2 separate regions of the Homo sapiens genome follow, and region 1 is linked to region 2. The links come from fine-mapping of genetic effects on gene expression. Tissue or cell type: tibial artery. Region 2 holds a variant in brackets; the other region holds the start of a gene. All regions are shown on one strand. Distances are from middle to middle.

The links. PIP is the estimated chance that this variant, and not a neighbour inherited with it, causes the effect.
Region 1: MANEA-DT starts here. The variant in region 2 is fine-mapped to the expression of MANEA-DT in tibial artery (GTEx, PIP above 0.99). The same link has a PIP of 0.9 or more in atrial appendage and subcutaneous fat.

What each region holds. Positions count from the first base shown.
Region 1 is chr6:95,570,739-95,582,430 of GRCh38, forward strand. It overlaps MANEA-DT (MANEA divergent transcript), which reads right to left and starts at 6,713. Exons shown (of 3, transcript NR_104136.1): 1 at 6,355-6,713. MANEA (mannosidase endo-alpha) reads left to right here and starts at 6,797. Exons shown (of 5, transcript NM_024641.4): 1 at 6,797-6,900. RefSeq lists silencers at 6,537-6,616, 6,667-6,756, 7,037-7,096 and enhancers at 6,893-7,833, 7,297-7,396.
Region 2 is chr6:95,539,204-95,550,895 of GRCh38, forward strand. No RefSeq gene overlaps it. Among named protein-coding and RNA genes, the nearest start is that of MANEA-DT, 32 kb to the right of the region's middle. RefSeq lists a silencer at 5,477-5,677 and an enhancer at 9,817-10,433. The variant C/T (reference allele first, on the strand shown) is at 6,202.

The DNA.
Region 1 (11,692 bases), 32 kb after region 2:
AATAGATGAATGCAGAAAAGACTGCCTTGCAGGGGCACAAACTCTTTTGAGATATAGACATATACAAAAATAATTAAAGTAATCCAAACAGTGGTAAGCAGATAATCAATATAAACCACACACTGTATATCTCTGTGTTTCTTGGTAGACGGCAAACTCCTAGGAGGTAGAGATTTGTGATGAATATATGTTTTCTGAAAGTAGGCACCCCTCAACATTGTGAATAAAAGCATAATCAAATAAAACCAATTATTATGAAGCTAACATATTTGCCCATCTCAACAAACCAAAACAAAAACAGCCAGAATAAAAATTGGTAAATAACAACTCAGTTTATATTAATGCAATTAGCTTTTACTTTGCAGATACATTTAAAGAATGATGTTTCTCTCACATTCAAAGAAACAATCTGGGCATCTTATAATTAATGTAATATTTATTGAATCCCTACTGTTCATTGATTTATTTATTCAACACATATTTGTTGAAAACTGTATTAGTTTCCTGTGGCTGCTAGAACAAATTACCAGAAACTTGGTAGCTTAAAAAGCATACATTTATTCTCCTGCAGTTCAGGAGGTCAGAAGTCTGAAGTCAGTTTCACTGGGCTGAAATTGAGGTATTATTATGGTCACTCTCCCTTCTGAAGGTTTTTCTTGCCTTTTCTGGCTTTTAGAGCTTGAATGAAATGCTTGCGTTCCTTTACTTTTGGTCCCTAGTCTGATCTTCAAAGCCAGCAGCCTAGCATTTTGTTTCAGTAGTCCCATTGCCGCCTTCTTTGTCAAATCTCCCTTTGCCTCCCTGTTATAAAGACATGTGTGACTATATTTAGGGTCCATCAAGACAACTCTCATCTCAAGATCCTTCCTCACACCTGCAAAGTCCCTTTTGCCATTTGAATTATTACTCACTGGTTCAGAGGATTAGGACCTCTGTATCTTTGGGAATTATTATCATCCTACTACAAGCACCTACTATGTGTTGGGAGTTGGAGCCCCAGCTCTGAATTAGACTATCTCTGGAACTGCCTTCATGGAACCTGGCATTACAGGGTGTATAAAAGACGTACACAACACAGGCCTGCTATTTAATTGGGTTCTCTAACAGAAAAATGTTTATCAGCGAGTAAGTGCATGTTTTTTTCTTTTTCTCTTTTAACAAGAGAAATTGCCAGCTACTTCTTAGAATACGCAGGCACAGAAAATCACCTTGTAGCTGATACTGTTGAGAATAATTACTGTGGTCTCTCTTATATAAATAGAAGACAAGTGAGCCCATCATTTTGAGAAATAACAAGGCATTTTTTTTTTCTTTTACTGACTTTTGCAAACTGCTTCTTTTTGCATGGCAGGAGAAGGTGGTACTATGGCAGGAGAAAGATTAGGTTGGTTTGGTTAAAGAATCCATAGCATCCCACGAAGGAAGAAACTCAAACCTAATACCTTAGGAAATTCTCTGTGAAACCTGGAGTTTCAGTGATGCAACATTTGGGGAGTGGCTGATTGTAGTATGACACTAATGCTCAATCATAAAACATAGGACTTCCTTCCTTCAACACACTGAGAGGCCCTATATCAACTGGTGGAGTCATTTCCGAACTCAGGAAGTGCTACATCTCCCTGCTGGCTCTGGTTTCCACTAAAGACATGCATCTCCCTTAGCTGCCACCATGCCTGTTTGCAGAATAGGGTTTCCTTCAGGATAGGGTTTCCTTAAGGAGAAATGTTCCATATATAGTCAATCAATGCATTAGCATTTAACAGCACCATTCAACCAGAGGTGAACTTTCTGCCTTCTTTATTTGGGAAGGCAGAACGCTCTCCCATCTCTGTCACTCAGGAGGGCCATCACCTGGGCAAGTACTTGGATCAGAGAATGAGAAAAACTTTCACCAAAGGGGCTTGGCCTGTTTAGTTAGAAGTTACCTACACTGAGTTTAATTCTGGGTTATGTACATCAATTCTTAGAAGAGCCTTATCTAATGCATCAAGAAGTCACCCTAAAACCTGTGACCACTACGAGGCCAGTGAATTTTAATCATGACCTACCAAGGCAAGTTTTTTCCTTGGTCTGATAATAGTTCGTGAATTTATGTGGGATAGAGTTAGAATGGATTCCTTGCTGTCAGGATGCTGGTAGGTACAGTGAAAGGATCAGAGCATTAGGGGAAACAATGAGTTTGGCTCTCTGAATTATCTACTGCTATAAATTGGTGGAAACTTTAGTGTTTTACTCATGGCACTATTGGAGTTACATTCTTTGCATCCCAAACTGTGTCAAGGAATACCTTAGTTACACCTTCACAGATACCAGATATGATAAAAAGAACAGAACAATTTAGTTAATTAAGAAATTATTGCTGTTTCATATTACTCCCTATAAATGTATAGGGATTAAAAGAATAAAACAGTAAGTATAAAATAGTAAGGGAGAAAGTAGACTTTATATGGACAGTGAAGCATACTGTGATGGATAATTGGACTATTGTTTGGGGATTTAGTTTATTTTATTTTGTTACTACTTAGAATCTAAAAATCCTTCAGGTTTTGGAAGAATAATGTATTCTGTGTTTTGTGCCCAATTTCCCATTAAAGCCAAAAGTTCTGGGCTCTACTTCAAGGAGGCTAAGGAGGAAAAGACATACAGCCTAGAGTAAGCTAATCAAATGATCTCAATCCAAAATTTGAATCTTGAAGCAACGAGGTAGACAACACAGAGTTGAGAAGTCACTCATAGTGGTGTCAGCAGCTTTGAGATCAGTGCAGCCCTGAAAGCAGCAGTGCCCTAATCTGTACTGTTATATGAGGCTGTGTTCCCAATTTCCTAGCCCCTCTTGTTTCCTATCCATTGCCATTACCTAATGTACTAGCCTTCATCTTCATGCTAAATTCTGTAACTTTTTACATAGTCTATTTGTTTTCAGGTTTGCCAGATTCAATTTCTATTGCTTACAAAATATATCTCTGATTAATGTAAGTGGAGAGGATATGGACAGAAATTGATTTCTCATCTTCAGTGACAGGAGTAATGAGCAAAGGTATAAATGGCATATGGCTAGGAAATACTAATGAAACTTCTAGGACAGGGAAAAATAGACATGAAATAATCAGGAGACAAACAATAGGGCCCATTGAAATAGAGGCAAGAAAAAGATGGTTGAAGGTGTAACTGCTTAGGTCTGGGAAATACAAAGAAGACTCTTCAATGCTGATGCCAAAAGATAAGATAAATGGCTGCCGCTTTTCTAGTAGCAAGATAGGATTAACCTGAAGGATCTTGTGGGGTGGGGACTATGATTTTAATAAATGCTAATTAGGATAAACCAAAGGCTACTATTAGTTTATTGTGTTAGAATCTTTCCATACAAGAATTTGACAAAAAAGAAAAAAAAATGGGGGATTTTTTTTTTCTCCATTCTTCCTTCTTTGGATCATTTTTGTCTTTGGACTCTCAGTGACTGATTACCCCTGATGCAACACATTTAAAATGTCTATTTACTACACAAATGAATTTATATGCAGCTCTTTTTCTTTCCAAGAAACCATCTATTAGATAAATGGCATATTCTTCTGGTGCTGTATTTTTAATTAAAAAATACATAAATATGGGCTCACATTAAAAAAGAAAACAGCACTACAGAGAGTAAAAAAGAAAATTCTCCTTCATTCCCCTTCTGTTACATCCCTATAGGTAACAATGCATATATCCTTTCAGATATTTTTATATATCATACATGCACATATATATTTAAAATTTATATTAATATAATGTGAATTTCTCTTGTAAGTATTAACATACTAATCACTTGCTCATTTATCTTGGAGACCTTTCCCATCAGTGCTTATTAATTTACTAAATTCTACATTGTTTACATTCAGGAAATTATTGAACTAATTAAATCTATATGTATATATGAGAGATAAAAAAATTGGATGTGGCAGTTATTATGGCCATCCCATATTTGAAAACAAAATCAAGATTCAGAATGTAATAACATTCTATATGTGATAATTACAACAAAACATTGCTGACTTTCCAGTGATGTCAAGTAAAAAAAAAAAATTCTACATAAAAACACTGTGAAAAAAAGTGATGTGAAAGAAAAAAAGAATATTAACAACATTATTTCTATCATTGCCATCTCAACATTCCCTGACAATAGCAGGGGATAGGTAGAGCAGTCAGAGTTACAAGATGAGGCACTAGCAGCAATTCTAATCCAGTTTATAAACACCATTGTGCAATGAATAGAGTGTGATGCAATGAGAATCTACTTGCCTAATTTATTTACACTGGCAGTCATAAAGTACCCAGTTTTTAAGCAAGTGAGCATGCATTAACATATTTATAAAATAAAATCCTCTCCCTCTCATTTGACATCAGAAAATGTATTAATCATTCCCATAAATATATTAGAATAGGAAACAATGATTATCTCAATAGGTGCAGAAAAAGCATTTAATCAATTAAACTGTCACTCATGGTTAAAAAAAAGCAAACAACAATACATTATGAACTGGAAACAGAACACTTAATAATCTTGATAAAGTATTTACCAAAAACCCACAGCAAACATTGTTATCATTATAAAATGTTAGCAGTATTGCAGTAAAGTGAGGAATGGGACAAGAATGCCATTATTACTTCCATTAAACATTGCACTGGATGCTCTGTTAATAAATAAAAGAAAAAACTGAATAATAAGTGGTTTGAAAAGAGAGAAAGAAGGAAACCATTATTCTTATTTACAAATGATATGATTACCTATATAGGTCATCCAAAGATGTAACAGGGAAATAAAGCAAGCAATCAAAAAAATTCAGCGAAGCTTCTGGAGATAGTACCAATATATTGAAATTGATGCTCTTTTAATACAATGTTACTAAACAATTAGAAAATAGAGTTTAAAGAGAGAGATCTCTAATTTTAGTAATAAAACTAGGAGGCAATATAATGAAAGATACTCAATAAATTACAAAGCATAGTAGCACATAAAGTACCTGAATAAAATAAATATACCATGTTCATAGATAAGAAGACATTTCACTAAATCTCTAAATGCAATTCTCAAGTTGAATAAAATGCCCAATTGAAATCCAATTTTTTAAATGGATCTTGGCTGGCTCATCCTAAAATTTCAATGAAAGAGTAAAGAGCCAAGTATAGTTAAGGCAATTTTAGACAAGAATCATTAGGAGGAGGGGTTTGCAAAATGTTTTAATACATAGAGTTGAGTGCATGGGTGTTCATTATATTATTATTTGTCCTTTCTGTGTTTAAAGTTGCTACAATTAAACTTTTAAACTTGTAGAAGAAAGAATAGTTTCTGATGTTATGTTGGGAAGAATCTTGTAAGCAAGAAAGCAAAAAGCACAAAATTAAAATGTAAAATATTATTAAATTCAAAAAGCTGTATACTGAAGCATAAAGCTTTTGGCAATCAAGAAACATCATAAAAACTGGAAAGACAGTCCATAAACTAAGAGAAGACATTTGCAACACATGTAACTTACAAGAGAGAATTAAACTAGAAAAAATAAATATTATCTACAAAATAATTTTCAAAAGCAAGCAATTTAATAAAAAATGAGATAAAATTAAGAACAGGCTTTAGCAAAAGGGAAAATGCAAATTAAAAGAGCAATCAGATGCTCTTATCAGCAAAAACTTAAAAAGTCTAACAATAGCATAAGGGTAACGATGTGCCAGTCTAGTTTATGGGAAATGGACTTGTATACAGACGAATCTCAAAACCTCTCAAAACCTAAATTAGTGAAAAAAGGGGAAAAATGAAGAATGATTCACATATGAAATATAAAACTAGGAAAATAGTATTTTTAGGGAATCGTACATATGTAACTATTTTCAGAAATACAACGGAATGAGTAATATAAAATTCAGCATAATGGTGAACGGAAGGAAGGAGATGTTTTTAGAGAGTCTTCTTTCTAGAAGACTCCAAAAATACTGGCATTTTTTTTTTCTTAAGCTCTGTAGTGGGTACCTGGGCATTTTTCATTCTTCTTTAAGATATGCACATGAGATATACTCATATGTATATTTCCCAATTAAAATTGGTGTACAAAATCTTTTTAAGGAGAGCCCTTATGAAACTGTTCACATCAGCAAGTTCTAGCTTGAATAAGGACTTCCTGTTACTATGTAACCAAACAAAAGATAGCATTTTCTTGTTTTCTGAAGCTAATGTAAGATGGAAACCTTCAGTTGTAATCCTATTTCAAAAGTTCTTGCTCTTCACATCTGACTTATCCTCAATTATTTCTAGTACTTCAGTACAGATGTGATTTTATAGAATACATTCGCAAATTAAAAACGCCATCTCCATCTGCCTACCTTGGGCTTCCAAGTAAAGTTCTATTTTTACAAAAATCAAAACAGTTCCTCAACTTTAAAAGTTTGAAAACCAGTGTACTTGTAAAGCACTTGATGCAAGCAACTTCTGAATGTTTCACATAAAAACAAACAAAAATGTGTCCTCTGTAATACAGTTAGAGCCTCCCAACAGAGCCTCAGAAGACCGTTTCTAAAGGCAGTGAGTTCTACTTGCAGAAATAGGGCGGGAGTGCAGTCTGACTCCAATCCACACGTCCTTCCCCTCTGACAGAACGCCCCAAAACGCAGTCCTCTCTTTCTTCCGCGCCGCTCCCGCCCTAGTCCTCTTAGACCCGCGACCGGAGGCTCCGGAAGACCCCGAGCCCCGCCCGCTCCGTGACCCCGCCCCCACCCGTCCCGCCCCTGAAAGCGCCCGGAACGCTGTGCGCGCGCCTTCGGGGAGGAGGGGCTGTCTGGGCTCGGGGCGCGGCGGCAGTCAGCTCTATGTTCGCGGTCTTAACCTCTCCTCTGGCCGAGTCCTTGCAAGAAGTGAATTACCCGACCCTGGTGAGTAGCTGCAGGAGTCAGACCTCTTGGAGGCGGCGGCGCCAGCAGCGGCGGCAGGCACGAGGTCCACCGCGGGCGCCTGCGCGCTCGCCCGCCAGCCAATCTGGTGGCCGCTTTCCTCCGGGCGCCCTTTGACCCGGCGCCCCTCTGGCAGGCGCTGGTGGCGCCCAGCGGCGAGCCTGTAGCCCCCTCGATTAACCTAGGCTGTCACTCTTAGGCCTGTTTTAGTCTGCGTTAGTTTTACTGCCTTTTACACTGCTTTATCCCCACCTCACTGGCCTCGTCGCCGCCTCCTCTTTGAAACGGTACCTCCTGTCGCCTCGGATTTTCCTTGTCTCCCCGACAAGGTGGAAATTTCGGGTCGGATGGAAGCCTTTTTCAGCACCTTCTCCTTGTGCCCCCAGACTGCCTCTGGGCCTTGAGCCGACCGGGAGAGTAGAAGGATCGAGGCCTGCTGGGCTCTGGGTGCAACGGAAAGGTAGCTGTCGCCTCTGGGCATCGGGAGGAGACCGCCCGATGGCGAGGCCGCTAGAGATGGTTTTTCAGTTCACCTGTTAACGTGTTTGGCACTGTCATCTTAGACTCTTAGCCTTTGCTAAGTCGGGATGCAACAGTGCTGGATTAGTGTTTTTGTTGTTCCTTTTTCCAAAGAAGCAACTTGAAGTACAGGCAGGTATAACTGTTTGGTTTTGTTGTTGTAAGACCCTACGGATAAGTGTTAGGAGAAAATGTGGAAGTGCTATAAAACAACAACAAGGGGGGGATAATGTTGATTAAGAACTTGAAAATAAGAAAAATGGGACTGGAATAGGCTGTTCACGTTAAAGTATTGAGGCAGTAGTTTGAAACAAAAATATAAAGTAAAACCTAGATATTGGTGATACTGTATCACGTTGTTTGCAAATCACTTTCATGACAATACATCTATTTCAGGTGTATCACACCTGAAAAAAACATGAGTGCTGTGAATTTGTGGATTTTCAGGCTCAATGCAGAAAAACACCCCCCAAAACAAAAAATCACAACAATGAAAACACCATTTCCAGAGCTGTTGCTGTTATTCGTGTGACGAATAGTGAATGTATGATCATAAAATAGAATAAGCTGTCTTTAGATGAAGTTTGGGCACAGTTTATGGAGTAGGTAACAGTTAATCATTGTTTATTAGGTACATAATCCTTAATTGAAAACATAACCATATAGCAGCAGCTTTCATCTTGTGTCACAAAAATAACTGGTGTATCCTCTAAATTTGATTTGTCTAATACCTTAAAGGAAGGCAGAATAGCATGGACAAGAACTTGAGTTCTTGAGCCAGACTCGATCTGCTCCTTGCTAGGTGATTAACCTTAGATTGGTTTCTTGGCCATTTGCTGGCCCAGAGATTTTTGAAAAAGTTACCAACTGCTCAGCTTCATCATTTGTAAAATGAGGTTAAAAAAAATTCTGCGGCCTGGCGCGGTGCCTCACGCCTGTAATCCCAGCACTTTGGGAGGCCGAAGTGGGTGGATCATGAGGTCAAGAGATCGAGACCATCCTGGCCAACCAACATGGTGAAACCCTGTCTCTACTAAAAATACAAAAATTAGCTGGGCGTCGTAGCGTGCGCCTGTAGTCCCAGCTACTCTGGAGGCTGAGGCAGGAGAATCGCTTGAACCCGGGAGGTGGAGGTTGTAGTGAGCCAAGATGGCGCCACTGCACTTCAGCATGGCAACAGAGTGAGACTCCATCTCAAAAACAAAACAAAACAAAACAAAAAACAGAAACTAAACCTCACTGAATTTCTGTTAACCAGAGGGTACAAGTGTTTACAATAAAACTGACCTGGGCAAGGATTGATTTTGAAACTGATTTTGAAAGTTCCAGATGTGTCTTCTAGTATTGAGTTATATTTATCTCCGGTGGCTTCATACAAAATAAAATTAGAAGAAAACAATATATTTTTTAAAAAAAGCACCAGAAGTCTGTGTGATTTAATTTAGTTAATTGAAAGGGAAGTCTTTTTGGCTTTTGTGAGTTACATGATAAAAGCAAATAATTTTTGAAGTACTAATTCATACCACCCTGCTTCTGAATCTCTTGGGGTCTCTTAGCTAGCTGGATATGTCCAATAATTTTTTATTAGACATCACTAAGCTTCAAGTCAGCATTTCAAAGGATTAAAAGCACAAAACTCAAAAAATAGAAGCTACAGGTTCAAAAGAACCTATTGTGTATGAGTAATGTAAACAGTCTTTTGAGGAGAAAACAGATTTTCAGTAGCCAATACTTTGAGTAGGTCCCTGCCTTGGAAAGATATATCTGCAATAAACTTGTAATATTTTCTCTATGGTGACTTATAATACTTTTCTTTTATTGAAGCTAAATTAGTTCCTCCACCCCTTTCCTGCAAGATCAGACATTTTAGGCATCTCAAGGGTCATTGTGGTTTTACAGCGTTGAAGATGATTTTTTTTATTAAATTGGATTTTTAAAATTATTGGATCTTTACGATTCTTTATAATATGTTCAGTATACACCGTAAACTTATCAAGTGTGTATACGGTCAGTAGTCTATATATACACACACACACAGATATACATATATATATATACACACACACTGCCTGAATACCAATGAAACAGCAAAGAGCCAGAAATTAACTTTTTTAAAGCTGAACACTTAATGAACACTATGTGAAAGATATGTTATGCTCTACTAGAATGTGAAGATAAAGACTCCATTTCTGAAACTTAAGGAGCAATCTAGTAGGTGATATAAAGATAAATGCACAGCATGATATAATACATAAGGAATGACAATTTGGCCGGGCACGGTGGCTCACACCTGTAATCCCAGCACTTTGGGAGGCAGAGGCGGGTGGATCACGAGGTCAGGAGATCGAGACCATCCTGGCTAACACGGTGAAACCCCATCTCTACTAAAAATACAAAAAATTAGCCAGGCGTGGTGGCAGGCACCTGTAGTCCCAGCTACTCGGGAGGCTGAAGCAGGAGAATGGCATGAACCCTGGAGGCGGAGCTTGCAGTGAGCGGAGATAGTGCCACTGCACTCCAGCCTGGGCAACAGAGTGAGACGCCGTCTCAAAAAAAAAAAAAAAAAAGAAATGACAATTTAAAAAGTAAATACTGTTAACAATAAAATATATGAGGAATAAGTACTTTTCACTGTGGAATTAGGAGAGGTATCAAGAAGAGGCAGCATTTCAACTTTGACTTGAAGGTGACTGGTATTTCAATAGTTGGTCATATAGAGAATAGGCATTTAGAATAAAATGTGTTATATTTTAATTGCTTGTCGGACACCCATCTTTAATCATCATCATAAACAATTGCTCATTTATTTAGTCTTATACTAAGCCACATGATTTTGAGAGTTTTACAATATTAACTAATTTCATCCTCACAAAAATCCTATGAGTGAAGTAATAACTCATTCTATGGGTGAGGAAAGGAACTCAGAAAGATCAGGTCAGTTTTGTAGGTCAGATAACTAAAAAATGGCACAGCTGGAATTTGAGCTCAAGCATTTGAACTACAGAGCTCATATTTTAAATCTCAATGCCCATCTGTGTTTATTTAGGTTGAGATGACTTAATTGAGACATGGAGGTTGAGCCAGAGCCAGCAGATCATCTCTTAAAATTGAGCTTGTGTGTCATCTATAATGATGTGATAAACACACATTTTAATTGAATGAATGAAGTAATGTAAAATGAGAAGACAGAGGATCAGCTTAAGAAATTACATTCATAGGCAAGAGAGAGAGAAAAAAAAACAGCTTCCATAAATGGACATTTTGTGCTTTGTATTCATGAGTGTATCCAGAAAATGAACCTAAGAAATTTTTTAGAGTTTCCAATATTTCTTCACTTTTCATTTATTTATAAATTCATTAGTATTTACTGTTTGATTAAAACATTACTGTTTCAAATTGTCTTGCATGATTCACAGAATAGTTTTATCAGTAGGCAAAACAGATACCCTCTTTTTTAAGAAAAGGCTAAGTGATTTACCCAGGATCACACAACTAAGTGTGACTGATTTGAATTTACATCTTAAGATTTATTATATATCTTGATCTTTCATGAATCTCGCCATTCAGCTGAAGTCAACGTTTCAAAAATGAATGCCTTACTAATTTATAAATCTGTTAGTTATTTCTCCTTTCTCTGTAACTCTTCCAACATTCATTACCATTGTTTTTTTCCTTATAGAATACCTATCCAAATGTTTTCCTTCTGAAGTATTATGTTCTACTTTTAGAAAACAGAGTAAGAAAATATCACTGTTGTCTCATCCAGACATAACTATTTTACATGTTTAAGTATATTTCCTTCTATGTGTATCTTTAATACAGATATGATATTATATATCATAGTAGTTGATATATTACATCCAAAATATTATTTTTGCTTCATGTCTCATCAAAATTTTCCCTTTCTTCAATCAAAGGGAAATGTTTGTTGTGATGTCAATGATTTGAAAATTTCAGGACAACAAATTACAGTGGCATGCCAAAATGGTTGTATCATCTTTTTTTTTTTTTTTTTTTTTTTTTTTTGAGACGGAGTCTTGCTCTGTCGCCGAGGCTGGAGTGCAGTGGCGCGATCTCTGCTCACTACAAGCTCTGCCTCCCAGGTTCACACCATTCTCCTGCCTCAGCCTCCCGAGTAGCTGGGACTACAGGTGCCCACCACCATGCCTGGCTAATTTTTTGTATTTTTAGTAGAGATGGAGTTTCACCGTGTTAGGCAGGATGGTCTTGATCTCCTGACCTCGTGATCTGCCTG
Region 2 (11,692 bases):
TCTCCTTCATTTACAAAGCTTAGTTTGGCTGGATATGAAATTCTTGGTTTGAAATTTTTTTCTTTAAAAATGCTGAATATAGGCCCCCAATCTCTTCTGGCTTGTAGGGTTTCTGCTGGAAAGTCCACTGTTAGCCTGATGAGCTTCCCTTTGTAGGTGACCTGCCCCTTCTCTCTGGCTGCCATTAAAATTTTTTCTTTCCTTTTCACCTTGGAGAATCTAATGATTATGTGTCTTGGGGATGGTCTCCTTGTGTAGTATCTTGCAGAGGTTCTCTGCATATCCTGAATTTGAATGTTGGCCTCCCTAGGGAAGGTTTAAGGTGAAAGTGGGTGATTGTAAAGAAAGGAGAAAACTTGATAAAGAACAAGGGAAAAGAGGAAATGCAAATTTGGAAACACAAATATTTTTAAATACCTATTTATCTACTAATTAATAGATAGGAATACAGAGATTATGAGTGACAACTACAAGAAAGGATTTAGGACTGGTTATATAGTGAATAGATGTTTTCTTGAGAGCATTGATAGATTTTTGTGTTTAGCTATAAAGGGGAGAAGTATTTGGAGGTTTTCAACCATAGATACATTTGCGAGGCTTTTAAAAAATTACTACCACTTAATGAATCTTACCCTGTGGCAGTGAGTAAGTGAATACTTTGAATATATTAGTAAAAAGATAACTTTTCATATATTAGCTCATACAATTTAACTATTTTTGGCATAGCATTTGTTAGAAATAGAAAACTTTTGTAATAAAGAACAAAAGCTCTTTATAAAAATTATTGTTATAAAAACTAAATGGAGACTTTTTTAAGTGTAAAGTTATTTCTGTTTTGGGGAGAAATAAATACCAAAGAACCACAGCTACAGTTCCAGGTTCAAGGTGGCAAGCCGACTCCTAAGACAGAGATCAGCTTTAATCTATTGCTACATTTGTTTATTTTTTGACAGGATACAGGCAGAAACTATAGCAACTAGAGCATCTTCAACTTATCTTTTTCTTGCTCAGCAACTTCCAAGTACACAGGTTGTCTGCCTCACTACATGGATATTTAGTTTCCATGGATGAGAGTCAAGATGTGTGTAGATCACCTTGACAGGTAAAAGCAACAGGCTGTGCTTTCCAGTAATCCTTTGTGCTGTTCAAGTCTATAGGCCCAAACATGCATGCCCACTTGTAGCTCTCCTAACCCAGAGCTGACTTCATTCAACATACAGAAATACCATTTCTCATTTTTGTTGCTTCATTCCTCCCAAAACAAGAGTGCTATGGGAAACTGAGGTCACTCTCCGAGAAGTCCATATCAGACCAGGCTAATGTTAAATTCTTACTTACAGTTTCATCTCCATGACCTCAAGTCAATGTTTCACAAAACATACTCCTTAAATGTTCCTTGGTATTTTTTCTGATAGGCACATCTCTAATATTTTGTACACAGGAAAAAACAAACTACTACACTTGTGACCACCAAGTTTGTACTGTTAGTATAGTTATCTTCTTCCCAAAACATGTTCATCTTAACCGACATACTAGACAAGTCTTTTGATGCCTTATTAGTGAATTACAGTCTCCCTCTCACTCAATATCACATATATCTTTTAAAAGTTTTTAGGGACACTTAGACGTGTGTTTAGTTTCTCTAAGGACAATTAGTTTCTATGGGGTTATCATCAAGTGGGGATCTCAAATCAGTTTCTCAAAATATCTTTTGATCCTGAGGGGTCATGATCATTATACATTTTATTTCCTTTAATTTCCATATATGAGGCCATAAAATACTTTATTATACCAAATAGCAGTAGATGAGAGATTAAAGTAATGCTTAGCACACAAACTACTTGTTAACATTACAGCAGATAGCAGCAGATATTAAAGTAATACATAGCACACCAAACACTTATTTTTATTACAGTATAATTTCCTCATCCTTCCCAACAGAACTATCTCTTGCCCATATGCCATACATTTTCAATGACAGGAATAGTCACTAGAATATTCAGTAAATCCAGAATTCTTTCTGTCCTGGGGGCCTAATCATACCTCTGCTATGAAGAAGCAGGATTTTATTGACACTGGTTCCCACATATAAAAGTAGAGCACAACCAATTCACCCTATAGAGAGGACACAGTGTTGGTCTTTTGATGGCCACTAACTGCATCACAGGAAATGCTGGCTCTTTTTAAATTCATGGTGTATATATTGTAAGGGAACGATAACAGGATCACTTGTTCCAGTGACATCCTGCTATAGTTCAGGTGGTCCTTACCATTTTAATATTGCATCTGTCCGGCTTGGACTTCTAAAGCACTCAGGCATTTTCCTTTAAACACAATAGAAATAAAGTGTAGCAGAGAGCACTTCCTGGATGAGCATACAGGCCCTCTCCCATAGGTTTTGTACAGGATAATGTCCCAAATGACTTTTCTTCCCTCCAGATAAAAATAAAGCCTCACCAAATCCTTTTCCCACTCTTATAAATAGATGATAGGTTTGCAAAGGTAAAAGATAACAGGTCCTCCTCTACCACTAGGCAATAAAGCAGCACTTAGGGTCAGTCCTACCTTGGTCACACTGGGCAAAATAACTGTCTACATGTCCTTAGGAAAACATATACCCAAGTGCAAAGGAATAAAGTATCTTAAGTAGTATGCTCCCTTTCGTTGGAAGAAGGGCAAATGCAATGTTTGTCTAATGCACTTGATCTGATAACAGAAAAGGAAAGGTTTGTAAGGTATGAAAGACGAAGATTTATGTCACAGTATCATTTCCCAACCCTTTATTCCTGGTACACAAAAAGCTTTCTTAAGGCTGTTCCGCCCTCAATGTCTCCCATGTTTAGGTGAAGCACATACCCCCTTATAAGCTTCCCAGCCAGCCCTTCTTATCCTTCACTTCCTTAGCATCCTCTGTCTTTCAAAATGAATGTTTTAGTTGACTATTCCAATTTTTAATTAAGCCACTCCTATGTGGCTGGTAGGAGTATATGTCCATTACATATGGTTCTTTTTGTCTCATTTTGGAAACTTGGCCATGGTGAAATTCATTCCCTATGAAATATAGTGGGGGGACTCAAAACACTCATCTATCCCCAGAAAGACTCATTGGAATACTCCAGGAGTAATGAACTGGGTTCAGTATAATCCATCTGCCAGTGATGTGCTTGCCATTGACCTCAGGGAATTCTCTCCAGTGCCATTTTTGGACTTTTTTTTCTTCTTGATCGCATTCAGGACAGCCTGTCACAATAGTAATGGCTTTTCTGGGTAGCACTGGTCTATGCCATTGCTTCCAATTGTCGTGGCATGGCTTGAGCACCACTGTGACAGCTCATCTCATACACTCAACTGATTTTCTCCTTTGGGAGACCAGGGCATCTACTTTGGCTTTCTAGCGCTCCTCTGAGACACTACTGGCTGTTCTTTGTAGGCATCTAGAAATGTGCTTCTCCCCAGGAGTTTCCATAAAGACTTCCACAATTGCATCTCTTCACATGAAGATAATCTTGTGTATCTATGTATCAAGGAAGCATTTGCCTGTCTGACACTGCAACACAGTCCTAGGGAAAGCCCAGGAGGCTTTAATATTTAGACACAAGCCTGAGGCCAAGAACCAAGTTCTTCCTGAACCATTAACATATAACATATACTGACCTCTATTCAGGCCACTGTGTATGCTTATCATTGTGTCTTCAGCTCAGATTTTTACAGTACATTGGAGGTTAGCTGTAGCCTTCCATATAGAGTCCCATCATTCAGTGCAAGGACTCTCATTAGCAAATAAGTCAGATATTTTGTCTCAGCAGGGTTCAGAACCTTTGGCAATAAGAGTGGGTAGCTCCTCCAGAGTGCCACTGTAGAGGCAGAGATGTTACCTGCTCATGGATAGAGTGCATTTCCTCAGAGTCTATCTTTTTTAGCATGTTCCCAAATATATTTTATCAGTCCGTTCTCACACTGCTAATAAAGACACACCCAAGACTGGATAATTTATAAAGAAAAGAGGTTTAATTTTTCAGCATGGCTGACAAGGCATCAGGAAACTTAAAATCATGGTGGCAGGAAGGAGAAGAATGAGAGCCAAGTGAAGAGGGAAGTCCCTTATAAAACCACCAGATCTATAAGAACTTACTATCATGAGAATAGCATAGGGAAACTGCTATCATGATTCAGTTATCTCCCACTGGGTCCCTCCCACGACATGTAGAAATTATGAGAAAGTATGTGGAAGTTATGGGAGCCACAATTCAAGATGGGATTTGTGTGGGGATACAGCCAAACTGTATCATATATCATTCATATTTTACCAGGGAACTTGTTGTACAACTCCCTTTCTATTGGAATCTCTTTTTATATCACCCATGAGACTGTAGATAACTCAAGCCTCAAGTCACCATAGGTAATGCAATGTAATCTGATGCTCTTTGGGTATGAGGGCTGTTTCTTACTAGAGCCAAAAAGCATGCTAATGCCTGTATCTCAAATAGGCTGTTCTCAGACACAATATCATGAATTTTTTTTAGTCCAGAACTCCTGCAACCACCTATAAGTAGCATTCTAAGGCTTTGGCTAGGGACTCCAGTCTATGTGTATTTTAGTAGTGGACTTCTCTAAAACTGCTGGTTGTATCAGGATTATAAAATCCCAAAAAGACAGCTTGGCCTACCCTCTGCTCTGGATATCATTCAAATCCATTGCTTTTTCTAGTCACTTTGTATATCGGGGCCAACAGGATTTCCAAATATGGCATATGTGTCCTAGAATCCAAACAACTCTTTGAGAGTTTGTGCCTCTCTTGCTAGTAAAAATGGGTCAGGACAATTTGTTCTTTACTGTGTGTGAAGTGCCTCTAGTGGCCAGAGTATTCCTAGAGAAAAGACTGACCAATCTGGGTCCTGAATCTTAATCAGATTTTTTAGACATCCTTATCTAGTCCTATTGCAGCTATTGTTTGTAAATCCTCCTTGCCTCCATTCTCAGCTTACTTTCTGAGAGGGGAGGTATCATCGTATCATCAGCTTCATGAATCAATGGGCTTTCAGAAATGAAGAGACTCAAATCTTGTCTTATAGGGCAGTAGCTAAATCCTGGAGAATGTGCATAACCTTAGAGGAAGATAGTAAAGTATATGTAATGAAATATCTCTCATGCAGATAAAAATGATGCTTGGCATTTTTTCCAGATTCTATTATCAAAGCACATTCCCTGCCGAACCTCCTGGTAGTTTTTAATCATGTCTGGCATAACAGAGACTTTGGGGAAAATTGTTTCACTTAATTCTGCATTTTCTCACAGGACAGACAGGACTAACGTGAAGAGAATTGATGGGGATGAGCACAACTGTTTCCACGACCTCTTTAATCATGACTGAGATTTCCTGCTACTTTCCTGGAAAATGATGCAGTTTAGTATTTACTACAGAAAAGGGCAATTGTAAAGCCTCCCACTTAACAGATCTGATAAAAACCTGGCAAAGGGCAAATCCCTAGCATTCAGCTATAGACCACTAAGAAGGGCAAGACCTTCTGCTTTTGCTTCATAACCTTTCCAGTTATTCATTCAAGCAGAGAATAGCAGCACTATTCTTATCTATTTCCACTATTTCCTTATCATGTTCCTCTCTGGTGCTCTACTAGGGCCTTGGAGTCTTCCCTCACAGTATCTCCTTCCCACCCCAGCCCTTAGCTTCCTCTTTGGCTTCTTAACATTGTGTTTTTGCTCCCTACATGTATTATAGTACTTTATGTACCGATATTCAATTGTCTCAAAATGTTTTGTTCACCAACCCTAGGATATTCGACTTTAACCAAAGCACATGGTCTTTGAACTGATCTGTGGGATAGGACAAAATATCCTAGCCTTCAAGTTAATCTTTATTGGTTTCTACTGTTTCTACCAATGGTGTTTATTTAGCACACTTTTTATTCAGCACTTTTCTTAGCACAAAGTTTATTCACAACTTTTGTTCTTACAGCATCATTGGATTTTTTAGTAGTGGACTTCTCTAAAACTACTGGTAATGTCAGGTTTATAAAACATAATACCAAAGGGACAGCTTGACTTGCCTTCTTCTCTGGATCTCATTCAAATCCATTTCTTTTTCTAGTCTCTTTGTATACTGGGGCCAACGTATGTGTCCTCCAGAATCCAAACAGCCCTTTGAGCCTTTGTGCCTCTTTTACTAGTAAAAACGAGTCAGGA[C/T]AATTTGTTCTTTACTGTTTGTGAAATGCTTCTAGTGGCCCTAGGCCAGATTATTCCCAGAGAAAGGACTGACTAATCTGGGTTAAACTCACACAGATTGGCTTAAAGGGATCATATCTCATGGGATTCATTAAGGAAGGCAGCTGGCAGATACGGAGCAAATGTTCCTTTTCCCAACTGGTGATAATGAGCCAGTAAATCTTTTCAGATAATTCAATAAATTTCTTATCTTTTCATCTTGTGTCTTAACAATAAATTTCTTATCTTTTCATCCTGTGTCTTAACAGCCACCTAATGACAGCTGTATCTGATTCACCCTTTTCTTATATCTTTAACTGCCCCCTCCCCTTGCCTTTCTTTGACTATCCATTTTAACGGTTTCCTAGGAGATAAATCTAGGTAACTCAGCCATCCAGGCATGAAATGTTCATCAAAATCTGCTCCCCAACCCTATCCTGTCCTATTTCCTGCATCACAATGATTTGACTCAAGGGCCTGAAAGCCAAGGCTACTTCTGACACCATTGTCTAGCACAGCATTTGTCTTCGGCTAGCAAGCTGAGTCAGGAGACACAGGCAAGCTTTAATATAATACTGTTTACTTAGCATTATAGAAGGAAATAGGCAATACATGAAACAGGTGTACCATCTTCATCTCATCATCACCTCATCTCAGCAGCTACCCAAGTACAAAAAAGTAGTAAAAAAAAAAAAAAAGATTTCCTTTACATCCTCACACACATATGTATGCATGGCTGCCACAAATGATTGCCAAGATGTGTGTGCAACCTTGAAACATGGAAGCTACAGCCTCTATTTCCCACCAACTTTTTATACCATAGTTATCCCACAGGCTCAAAGCCCATGTGCATGAAAACTCACAGCCCCTCTAACCTGAGGCAGATGTTGTGTTCCGCAAAACAAATGAGCCAGTCAAAACATTCCTCATTTGTCTTAAAACTACTGTTTCCATGGAAACAGTCCTATGAGAATCTAAGATCTTTCTGAAGCAGTCTTGATATGCAGGCTTAATAGTAACTCTTCATTCACAAAAGCTTTATACATACATATGTATGTATGTATGTATCTATATATGTGGTTAAAGGTGATGTGTTAATCACCTTTTTAAAATATCTGTATTTATATATTGTTTTCATTTACCACTATCCTTTTGTCTAACCATTTCTAATTTATGAAACACAACACAAACAGAAAGGTGCACAAAATATTAAATACAGTAAAATATAGTATGTATATATAAATCATCATGCATCCATCCCCCAGATTGAGAAACTGAACACTGTCATCACCTCCAAAGCCTCCAGGCTGTTACTTCCCAAACTAAGACTCCTCAATATTCCTTAGTCTTGTGCCTGTCTTTAACTTTTATAATAATCACAACTACATATTGTTTCAGTTTTATCACTAAGTACACATTGCTAAACAATACAGTTGGGTCTTTCCTATTTCAAATTTTTTATAAATACTACCTACTGATTTGTGTGTTTTTGATTTTTTTTTTTGCTCAACATTCTCTAAGATTGTGCAGTGGCCATTTGCTTTTCATTACTATGCAGTATTCTATTATATAAAAATGTCACAATTTATTTAATTCAGTCTCTTATTAATGGTTATTTGTTTTATTTCAAGTTAGGGTAACACAAAGAGTGCTCCTTATAATATTCTTTGCATTTCTTTAATGCAAGCATTATCACTTTTGTTTTGTTTTGTTTTTGTTTGTTTGTTTTAAACAAATAGAGTAATGGATAAAGAGAGAAAATGTCATTTACTTAATATCATGATGCTGGTAGAATTGGACTTTAAACCTAATTCTGAAGTCTCTGTGACTCCAGAGTCCATGTTCTCAATTTCTTCAATAGTTCTTGTAATAAGAAGCACGTTTTAATGAAAATAGTGACAATTGAGATGAAGACAATTGACAAATTCAACCAGTTCTAAGAATACAGATTCAATATGATTTTGTGATTGAGGCAGTTGCTGAAGGAGATGGAAAAATCAATAGTAACATTGATTAAGCACCTGGCTTGAGTAAGTGATTGGTGGTGTCATTTAGTGAAATACTAAATACAGAAAAATGACCAGGGTTGGCAGATCAGGAATTTAGATGGACTTGAACACACTGCATTTCGTACCTGCAAGACACCACTTGACTAATAGTAATAGCTAGCATTATTGAAAACTAGCAATATGCCAGGAATTGTTCTGAAGTATTTACATGCATTAATTTGATTCTCACAACAAACCTATGAGGCAGATCCTATTATTGTGTCCATTTTATAGATGAGGAAAGAAAACTGAGGGAAACAAAAGCTTAGTAGAACCTCAATGTTACAAAGCTAGTAAATGAGATGTTTACTTAAGCAGCCACTTCTAAAATTCATATTCTTAAGCATAAAATATGTAAAGTCTTTTGATAAAATGTCATGGGCAATAGGGAGTGAGCTATACAGAGGCTGAAGCTTAGGTAAGAGATCTGGGCTGGAATATAAATCTGAAAGTATTTACATGTCATTGAATATATGTAATTATTAATGTAATATATGTAATCAATTACATCATTAATTATGAGCCATAGGTGATTTTGCCCCCTAGGAGACATTTGGCAGTGTTTGAAGACATTTTGTTTGTCATAACTGGGGTGGGTGCTAATAGTATCTAGTCTGGGGGGTGGGGCAGGGAATTTGCTAAACATCCTACAATGCACATGATTGGCCCTCACCACAAGAAATTATCCTGTTCAAAATGTTAAATTGAGAAACCCTGTCCTACACAGATTAATCATTGGATGGAGGCCCACCTAGGAAGGAAGAGTGATGCGGACTAGGAAACTCTTCAGCTGAGACTTGTCTACTGACAGCACTTACAGCAGCTCTGGTAATAAGTTCTTTATTCCTAACTAGGAATGTATCAGTGTGTCACAGCATCTGTCATGATTATGGAAGGGAGATAAAGAAACACAGCCAGATGGGTCCCTGACGCAGGGGGAACCCTGCTTTCAACCACCTGCTGGGTTCAACAGTGTATGAAGTCATGCCTTTCCATTTCCTGCAATTCTGATGCTTTGACATCTCAGGGTTTTGCTGATCCTGGAAAGCCTACCCCTTCCAGGACTAGCCATCTCCTGGCTCCTATGTAGCCATATCCTACATAGTAAATGACTGGCCCAGGACTGTGAGATTCATATGCAAACCAACAATGCAGAGCTTTCACACCCCACAACCTCCTCTAGGAGGCTGTCACACTCAGGGCCACTATGCGCTGCCCTAATCACTCCAGAGTCAAATACTAGACAACTAGGGACAGTTCCTATACCCCAGAGTCTGCTGGGATTATTTAAACAAGCCAATTCTAAACCTGTTTACCTTGCTGCAGAAACCAAAATAAAGGCTCTTGCTCACGCTCTCCATCACCCCTCAAATCCTTCTGCCTCCTGACTGAATCTGGTGCTTCCCAGCATGGCCTTGTGTGGCATGGCATACCCCTTCCTCTTGGGAACAAACTGTCTATACAATGGCCAGTGTCTCCTGATTTTTGGCGTCACAATACCTGAATAATAATGAAACCTACATTTTAAACTGACTAGGTTGTTTGAATGATTAATTTATTTCTGTTGGGGTTTTATTTGTACGTATGTCTTTTATTTCTTCTTTTTGTATTGAAAGCATTTAAAAACTCTCTGCACGAGATTTGGTGGTCGAGTGGGTGCTATATTTACTATATTAATGCAAATTTTCATTTTTTAAAAATCTGTTTAATCTCCATGATAAAAAGTATATCCACACATGGTATTTGTTATAAACATTATAGATGCACTGTCATTGTCTTATTCACTATCTACCTATTGCTAATACATTCCACCTCTCTGATTTTGAGTCAGATAGTTTATGCGCATAAAGCTTCTACCAAATATTTAATGAAGTATTGTCATTTGTATTGCTTTGTAAAGAATCTGTAATCCCCTTTGATCTGTGTTAATGAGTCATGCATTGTTTATTTCCAAATAATTACTTTTTAACTTTAGCTATTAATGGCTATTTTGTATTGTGATCTAATAACATGGCGTGTACAACTTCAGCTTTTCTTTTTGTAACTGATTTAACATTTTTCTGGCCTATTAGATGACCAGTTTTTACAAAAGATCCATTGGCTTTTAAAATAAAGTGTATATTCTGTTTATTTGGAATATACTTGATCTCTTTATTTTAAAAATCTATAAATTAGAATAGTATATAGCCTTTACTTTTTTACTTTTTTCTTACATGAGTATTCAAAACCTGGGAGATGTTTCTTCAAAGCTAAATTTTTTTCTTTTCTAACTTCATTTTGTAAAATTGTATAGCACAGCTTTTACTTTAAGTATTTTGTAGCTATGTTATTTTTCATATAAAGGTTTATGATTCTAATATCTTCATTGTGGATATATCATTTTTAAACATAAAACTGAAGTCTTTTATAATTTATGATGACTTCTTTGCCTCAAAATCTGATACAGCTGATTTTAATGTTATGATCTTTCTTTTGTTTGCCTTTAGATGATGTATCTATGCCAGTCTCTTTTTCTATTTTTCTTTTCTTCCTTTTTTTTACCTCTCTAGGTCATATTCCCTTAGGTACGTCCCTTGGAAACCACATATAATTGGACTGATCTTTAATAGAACAGTTTAACCCATTCAAATTCAAAACTTTTAAGTTGTTATATCTGAAAACTTTGTTCATTTGCCCTTTCAATTTTAACTTAAAAAACGCTTCTTTACTGTCTTTTTCTTATCTGGATCCTTATGGAATACAATGTTCTCACCTTTATTGCTAACGCTTCATATAATATATATCTTATTTTAAAATTTTACAGATACATAAAAGTTAAAAATAAATTCCAATGATCAATTTCGCAAACCAAATAATGCTTTGATACCACCTGATAGAATTCTGAATATTAGTATTATTTTACTTTGCTTCCTTTAGCTCTCATTCACCTCTCAGTTGGGTGAAACGAGGTTTTTATAATCAGAAATTTGAGATGTAGATTATTATGGTCATTTTCACATGTTATATATTCTATCTTATGAATTTCCTTTGTATTTTGTTTCAAAACCTATTTAGAATATTTAGTTCAATTTATTTGATTTCACCATTTATAATGTCTAACACTGAGCATTCTTTAGTCTTTTATGTGAATTAATCTCTTAGCTGTATATATGTACATCTTTCAGTAATTTTTTCCTCATGGAGAGAGTTCTTGTTATTATATCTGTCACTTCAATTTTTACCTTCCTCCTTTCAATTAACATCCTTCTTTTGTCAATCTGTTGATATTTCATCTTGTATTTTCTTTTTGTACCAGAGACCATATTTTAAAAATTGTACTAACGACACAAGCAGATGCTTTAAAAAATGTGCTTTAAATTTCTGATAATAAACCTTTTCCAAGGTATGTCCTTGCAGCTTAAATGCTGCTATATTTCTTTTATGTA